3 separate regions of the Homo sapiens genome follow, and regions 2 and 3 are each linked to region 1. Evidence: fine-mapped expression QTL. A gene starts in region 1. Each other region holds a variant in brackets. All regions are shown on one strand. Distances are between the middles of the regions.

Evidence for each region. PIP is the estimated chance that this variant, and not a neighbour inherited with it, causes the effect.
Region 2: its variant is the best candidate, but not a certain one, in a credible set for the expression of HCLS1 in whole blood (INTERVAL, PIP 0.58).
Region 3: its variant is the best candidate, but not a certain one, in a credible set for the expression of HCLS1 in whole blood (INTERVAL, PIP 0.76).

Annotation. Positions count from the first base shown.
Region 1 is chr3:121,659,485-121,662,248 of GRCh38, reverse strand. HCLS1 (hematopoietic cell-specific Lyn substrate 1) reads left to right here and starts at 1,346. Exons shown (of 14, transcript NM_005335.6): 1 at 1,346-1,429. RefSeq lists enhancers at 1,074-1,123, 1,314-1,503.
Region 2 is chr3:121,891,827-121,894,590 of GRCh38, reverse strand. It overlaps SLC15A2 (solute carrier family 15 member 2), which reads right to left and starts at 190. Exons shown (of 22, transcript NM_021082.4): 1 at 10-190. The coding sequence starts at 114. RefSeq lists enhancers at 698-1,230, 1,231-1,764. The variant C/T (reference allele first, on the strand shown) is at 1,631.
Region 3 is chr3:121,638,354-121,641,117 of GRCh38, reverse strand. All of the region lies in intron 6 of HCLS1 (hematopoietic cell-specific Lyn substrate 1), which reads left to right. Among named protein-coding and RNA genes, the nearest start is that of HCLS1, 21 kb to the left of the region's middle. The variant A/G (reference allele first, on the strand shown) is at 1,268.

The sequences.
Region 1 (2,764 bases):
TATATTTTCTCTAGAGAACTATGTACCTGGATGGTGTGTCACATCATCTAGTCTAAATCGTATTTTGACACTACATGAGGATTCCAAGTGATTTTTCTCTTGTACAAACGTACTCTTCCTTATCATAACTTTGGTACCACCATGATAAATAGGTAATAAAGTAGAAGGAATAAATAAAGCTCCCCCAGGCATAGAATCCTTAGATTTGGAAGTGACAGAGGCTTCATATTCCTAATGCAGAAAAGTGCCTGTATCATGGGCCAGTTTCATCCAGTCCTGCTTAAACTCCTTGGAGGATGCACCGTTGTGAACAAATCAAGAAGTCCACAATCAAGATTAGGAAAGGCTAGGTCAGATACAATAACAGACACCCTCAAATTCTCAGTAGCCAAAACAAAGGACTATTTTTTAGTGAAAGACTCCAATTCCCCCACATGGTGGATGGGGCTCCACTTGTGTTCTTTCTCACTCAGGGACCCAGTCTGCTGGAGGAGCCAATATGGAGAATTGCAGGTTGCCTTGGGCAGTGGTGAAAGCATGGCAAAGCTTGCAGTGGTCTTACGGCCTCCGCCAGAAAGTGGTATCTGTCACTGGCCAAAACAAGTCACCTGAGTAAGTCTGACTTCAAGAGGGAAGGGAGGGGCAGCAAGTCTTGACACGCAGTAAAACAGGATACCACAAAGACCTTCTTCCATCAGCTGACCAGCACCTGGTTCTTTCAGAATTCTTCCTACGCTCTAGAGCCAAATCTTTAGTTTGTTAGCTCAGACTCCACAGTGCCCCAAACAAGCTAGGAAACTCTCCTTCCATGTCTTGCCTTTTCCCTCATGAGTTATTCTCTTCTGGCATTCAATTGGTCGACGTTTATTTGAACATCTATATGAAAACTCCACTTTTAAGTGCTGTGGGTAATATAGGGGTGAGTTTCTTTTTAAGTCTTATGCTTCAAAACCCACATATAAATCACTTTTCCCATAAAGCCTTTCTTGATGAATACACCCAATACCAAATGCTCTGAATTCCTTTACTGTCTCAAATGTAACTGCCACCCTATTTAGGACACAATGCTGTTCTACAGCATTCTCTAATGTGTTTTCTGGTTGAATGTTTGTTTCTCTCACTGGATTACAAACTCAGAGTCAAAGCAGCATTTTCTATGACTGCTCTATGACCCCCATTGTCAAAACCTTGCAAAAGACCAGGCACAGAAACATTTAATCCTTTTAAAATTTAAGTGTCTAAAGCAGAAGGAACTGACTCAAATTTCAGGAAGTAGCTGTGAGGATGGGGTGGCAGGAAATGACGAAAACCTGAATACGGAACTGAAGCAGCAGCTCAGTTTCTCACTCCGAAGTGGCAGCAGCCAGAGAGGGAGTCGGTGTGGACGCGAGGAGCCGGGCGCTTAGAACAGAGGCTTGCACAGGTGGAGGTGGGTACTCTGAGCCATGGGACAGTTGGGAAACACAGAGTAAGAGTTGAGGAGGAACCTACCTGGCTCTTAGTCCTTGGTGATGGGCAAGGTCACCACTAGTAGGCTTTTATCCTTTTATGGCCAGAAGGCCTGGTTGTGAGTGGTTGTAGCAAATCAGCATCTGGAGATAGAAACAAAAGGGAGGGGCTTAAACCCAAGGCAAGTGTTTCAGGAGCCATCTAGCACCAACATCAAGCAAAGTGTTGCCTGGTTTCTGCTGACAATCTACAACCCACTCTAAGGCCTGTCTCCCCTAGGTACTGAGCTGGGAGGAGGACCACAGGAGACGAAAACAGTGTCTGCCCTTGAAGAGCATATGGTCTCAGGGAAACAAACCCACACAGGAAATGTAACAGATCAGGAAGTAGTCACTGATGTACACTAGCACTGAGTACCAAGTGCTGATGGAGCCCAAGAGAAGGCATGATTGTTCTGCTGGGGCTAGTTTCTGTGTTCGTAGATCACAGAATCTCAGAATGTCAGAAATCAAGGAGACCACAGATGAGCTACGTTAACCCCTTCATTATTTTCCACTGGGAAAATCAGAGATAATTGCTGATTTGCCAAATTATTAAAGTTAGTATTTCTTAATCGCCTGGTCTGATACCTGGCAAATGAGTACCTACTCTGTTGATGCCCTTGTGATGGTCCCTCAGAGGCTTAGTCACAGAGCTGGGGTGACAGCCAGGGCTTCTGACTCCCAGTCTGTGTACTTTGATGCAGGAGGTCAGCATCGCAACAAGGCCTCACCAGATTACTCTCTGGTTCTCACCTCTAGATAGCACTTCTTACCTTTCTGGTTTCTGGTCAATAGGTCAAGGATATTAGATAAATTGTCTCTATTTCAGAAACTCTTTATTTCAAAAATGGGTGAATGGGAGAGTCAGGCTGAGGCCTCAGAGGAGCCACAGGAAGGAGGATGGGACCATCAGTCCTCATTGCTTCCTTATTGCTCATGACTATTTCAGAAACTTCTCCATTCCAGTTTTCTGTGTGACAGTCCTTTTGTTGTTGCACAGCAGCCCAGGAGCCAGGGGATGAGAAGCAGAGGGGTAGTAAGGATGCAGGTAGTAAGGATGTTTTGCTGTCTCCAACCGCATCAGGGAAAGCCAAGCTGCTTTCAGCCATGACTCCCGGCTGACTCAGTCAATATCTCTCCGGTGTCCCCTTAGCATCTCTTTAACTGATTTACCCAGACTTCCCCTGGGCTGGTTTTTAAGAGGTTGCTCAATGGAGAAGATGGAGCTTTCAAGTGGAAATAGAAAACTGGAGAATCTGAAGGCCTAGGTGGAG
Region 2 (2,764 bases), 230 kb before region 1:
AGGACTCACCGGAGATGGCTTCTTTGGAGGGCTAGGTGGTCGAGGTGGTACCTCTTCAATGGAGACAGGTGAAAAAAGAGTTTCCTTGGACTCATTTTTCTGGAAAGGATTCATGGCTGGCTCCTTACTCTCTCTCTCTCCTCAAGCATTTGGCTTTAGTAGGCAGTTAGGACAGCTGCCAGCCTACTCTGAAAAGAAGGACTGGGAGGGGGAGCTGGTGGCTTCAGCAACTCAGTTTAACTCTGTGGGTGTCAGCTTCAATAGCTTCCTGATCCAGAGCAAAGCAGGAAGCTATAGTTAAAAAGAATGTGTAAAAGTACAGCACAGCAAAGTGAAAACATGCCAAAGACAGAATGAAACAATGCTAGAGAACTGATTAGAAAGTCTATGTTTAAGAAAGATTATCTTTGCAAAGGAGTAGAAGATAGTTAAGAACACAACACCTCGAGCACAGATTGAAAAACTGATTCCATGGTCAGGCGCGGTGGTTCACGCATATAATCCTAGCACTTTGGAAGGCCCAGGCAGGCGGATCGTTTTAGGTCAGCAGCCTGGCCCACATGGTGAAACCCCGTCTCTACTAAAAATACAAAAAAAAAATTAGCTGGGTGTGGTGGCGGGCGCCTATAATCCCAGCTACTCAGGAGGCTAAGGCAGAAGAATCACTTGAACCTGGGAGGCGGAGGTTGCGGTGAGCTGAGATTGCACCATTGCACTCCAGCCTGGGCAACAAGAGCGAAACTCCATTTCCAAAAAAAAAAAAAAAGAAAAACTGATTTCAGGGTAACAATAGCTGTAATTTATTGAACATCTACTATTGAAAGGTTAATATATATGAATTACATCTATGTTGTATATCTATAACATATATATTTATTCTAATTCATATTACTATCCCCATTTTATAGAAAGTAATGTTCCCAGAGGTTAAGAAATTTGTTCAAAGTACCTGTCCACTAAGTGGCAGATCTGGAATTTTCACTATGCCATGACAGCTGGGAAAAGTGGAGTTAGTGTCAGTCATTATTCAGGTATGGAGGTTACATAAATGGAATGTAGGAATGCAGAGGATTAAAATGCATTGGAGAAGGAAAGTCATCATAAAACTGAGTTTGGAAGATAAGAAAGATGGTGAGTTTTGGCTGGGTGCAGAGGCTTACGCCTGTAATCCCAACACTTTGGGAGGCCGAGGTGGGCTGATCACAGCTCAGGAGTTCAAGATTAGCCTGGCCAACATAGTGAAACCCCATCTCTACTAAAAATACAAAAATTAGCTGGGTGTGGTGGCACGCGCCTGTAGTCCCAGCTACTCAGGAGGCTGAGGCAGGAGAATCGTTTGAACCCAAGAGGCAGAGGTTGCAGTGAGCCGAGACCCCACCACTGCACTCCAGCCTGGGCGACGGAGCAAGACTTGAAAGAAAGAAAGAAAAGAAGGGAAAGAAAGGAAAGAAAGAAAGAAAAGAAGGGAAAGAAAGGAAAGAAAGAAAAGAAAAGAAAGGAAGGAAGGAAGGAGACTTTTGTTTTCAACATCATAAAAGTTCAGCTAGAAATAGCCTATAAGCAATTAAAGAGGTGGGGCTAAAGAAAATGAGAGAAAAGGATTGGTGATATACATTTGGGAACCATTGTT[C/T]TTCTTTGCTAAAGTCACTCCTTATATTTTCATTTTCTCACTTCAAGATTAATCTATTCTTTCATTTAATAAATAAAATTTAATTTGAGCAAAAATTGTGAACCAGTTACTTTCTAGGTACTGTTGTGAACACCATTTTCCTTAATTATACATTTAGTCCTTATCAGAAGAGGAACAAGAACAAACATCATAATGCTAGGTGCATTTTATGCTGTGTTATTTTTGTCAAGCCAAAGAAGTAAAAGGATAAGAAAAGAGCATGGTGCCCCTCTAGTTGTTTGTCAAAAGAAAAGGGAAAAGAAAGGCTAGAGAGCTATAAAAGAAATAAGAAAAATGAAGACTAAATCAACAAGGTCAGGCAACATCAGAATGAATTATTTTATTTGAAAATACAAGAGAGAAAACCTATAACTCTATCCCTCACAAAATTTTTACTTTAACTATTCAAATAATTTATTGACAAATAGGGCCAGGATAAACTGTCTTTTCCTCTCTAAACTTTAACTCAGACTTTGACCATATCTTCTCAGCTTCTATTACACCCCTCATTTCTACTGTCTCCCACCAACCTTTACCCAAAGAAGAGTCCAGCTTCATTTCTGACTGTGGCATTAATAATTAAGGTATAGTTATTCTTTCAGGAAGCACTGCCATTTCTGAATTGGTTTGGTTAATGACTTTGGCTGGAAAATAAATGGTCAGAAGTTACTAGTCAAGTTAACTAGCAGAGGCACAGATGCCTTGAAGATCCACTTATGTTGTGGCTTTCCTTGATCTGGCAGAGTAGATGGAATAGCACCTGTATGCAATGTACCAATTTATTTGTGCTCATAGGTATCCCAAATACTAAACTTTGGAGTATTGGCAGTGGTTTTCTGACACTCCTTTGTTTAGACAAAATTCTTCTTTTGATTATGGCAGTATAATGATAGTATTCACAGAATCGAATAATATCAGAGATGGAAGGAATCTTAATCTTGTCCTATGTGAGTGAAACTTCCCTGAGGATAAGAATCATTTTCCTTTGGAAATTCCAATTCAGTAGATCTCGGTAGGGATCTAAGAATCTTTGTTTTCAACGAGCACCTCTAGCAATTCTTACGCTAGGAATTTGGGAAACACTGGTCATAAATT
Region 3 (2,764 bases), 21 kb after region 1:
GACTTACTGCCCTTTTTCAACCTCAGATGTGACTTTCATTATAGGAAGTTCTCAGGCATTTTCTCTTGGAATAATACCTCTTCTCTCTTCTCTTTATGTCCTTGTGCCGCATTCTGGGTTATTCCTTTAGCTCTAGGTTAAGTTCACTAATTCTTCCTTTAGCTGTATTTCATTATTGTTTAAGCTGTCCATTGCATTTTAAACTTTCTTTCAAATATCTTCCCTTCCCTTCCTTTCCCTTCTCTTCCCTGCCCTGCCCTGCCCTGCCCTGCCCTGCCCTCCCGTCCCCTCCCCTCCCCTGCCCTCCCCTCCCCTCCCCTCCCCTCCCCTCCCCTTCCCTTGCCTTCCCTCTCTTTTTTTAGATAAAGTCTTATTATGTTGCCCAGGCTGGCCTCAAACTCCTGGGCTGAAGTGATCCTTCTGCCTTGGCCTCCCAAAGTGCTGGGATTACAGGCATGAGCCACCACATCAGATATTTTCATTTCTGGAGTTTCTTTTGGTTCTATTGCATATCTGCTGATTCATTTTCCATAAGACATTATGGTTTCATTATGGTTCCCTGTGCCACTTCTTTAAGCTGTTTAATTATTTTAAACATGTACTTTGCAGTTTCTTTCATATTTTATATTATTTGCAGTTCTTGGCTGTGCCATTTCTTCTGACTAATCTGCGTTCCTCATGGTTATTTATTTCCTTGATGGTTTGTAATCTTGTTTATAAACTTATTTTAGTGAAGGAGAGGGATATTTGTTTTATGAGAATTTCATGTGCCCTGGGTTTAGTAAGTACCTCATCCAGGGAAATATTGCCTCTACTTCTGGCTCAACTCTAGAGGTCTTAATAGTAACGGACATTTTTTTTCCTTTATTATTATTTTTTCCCATGGAGTTCAAGTCTTTCTGGTTTTTAAGTTGGTTATGGTATGTTGTGCTTTTCAAGGAATTTGTTCATTTTGTCTGTGTTGTCAGGTTTATTGGCATAAATTCATTTATAATATTCTCTTCTTTTTAACTTCTGTAAGATTTCTAGTGATATGAAATGCCTATTTTCATTTCTGATCTTACTTACTTGTGTTTTTTCTCTTTTTAATTATTCTTACTAGAAGTTTATCAATTTTATTACTCTTTCCAAAGAACAAGCTTTTGGCTTTGCTAATTTTCTCTATTATTTACTTGTTTTAAAAAATGTATTGGTTTCTGCTCTTATCTTTATTATGTTTTTCTTCTACTTAGTATTAATTTAGTTTGTTCTTTTCCTAGCCTCTTAA[A/G]GTAGAAACTTAGATAATTGATTTTAAGCCTTCCTTTACTATATGGGCACTTGAAAAGCTATACATTTCCCTCTGAACACTACCTTCATTTGCTACAAACATTTGCTACATTCAACAAATATTTGAATGTGTGTGTTTTAATTTTCATTCATCACAAACCCGTGGTCCCAGCTATTCAGGGGACTAATGTGGGAGGATCACTTGAGCCCAGGAGGTTGAGGCTGCAGCAAGCCATGATTGTGCCACTACATTTTGGCCTGGGCAACAGAGTGAGACCCTGTCTCAAAAAACAACAACAACAACAACAACAACAACAACAAAAAATAAAATCATTCAGTTAAAAATATTTTCTTATTTCCCTTGTAATTTCTTCTTTGACACATGTATTATTTAAAAGCTGTTATTGATTTTCTGAGCATCAGGGAAATTTTCTAGATAATTTTATTGGTATTGACTTCTACTTTAATTCTATTGTGATCAGAATATGATCTCTGATATTTCAGTCTTTTGAAATGTACTGAGACTTACTGTCTTAGAGACTTATGGACTGGCACATGGTCTATTTGGTCAATGTTCTATATGCATGAAAAAAGTATATTCTGTAGTTTGGGGTATAGTGTTGTATAAGAGTCAATTAGGTTTATTAGTTGATAATGTTTGGATCTTCTATAATTTTACTGATTCGTTTTTGCCTAAAATACCTATTAATTAATGAAAGAATGGTGTTAAATGTTCAACTACTATTACAGATTTGTCTATTTCTCTTTCTACTTCTGTCAGCTTTTGCATTATTTGTGTGTGTGTGTGTGTGTGTGTGTGTGTGTGCGTGTGTGTGTGTGTTGGAGTCTTGCGATGTTTCTCAGGCTGGTCTCGAACTCCCGGGCTCAAGTCACCCTCCTGCCTCAGCCTTCTGAGTAGCTGGGACTACAGGCATTCACCACACCTGGTTTTTTACATTTTTCTTTTATTTGAGAGCTTCATGAATTTTGGTTCTGTGAATAGGTTTATGCCAGCATACATACTCCTGATGTAAGGTATTGTTCTTTTATCATTGGAGCATGTCTTTCTTGTCTCTTAGAATGCACTTTGTCTTGAGATCACTTTATCTCATATTCATGCCATCTTTCTTATGCTTACTCTTTCCAAAATGTATATTTTCCTGGATCAGTATTTAGTTAATTTCTCAGCTTAGAATTCCTGCATCACATAAGTGGAAAAAAAATGTGTATTTGCATTCTACACTCAGATGTAGGCTTGGAGTTTCCAAGTCTCATAAGCAAATTTTCCCCCTATCAAATATTGAACAGGTTACAAGCCCCCTTCATGATTTTCCTGAGTAAATGAGTAGAATTTTTCTAGCACTCTCTTATAGGAGTGGACAGAGCTTCGTTTCTGGCTTTCTTCCCTCCTCCCCCATTCTTAAATGGAAATTAGAATCACAGAGCCTCGATCCTAATCCCTATTCATTACATTTGGAATTTAAAATCTGACCAGGTG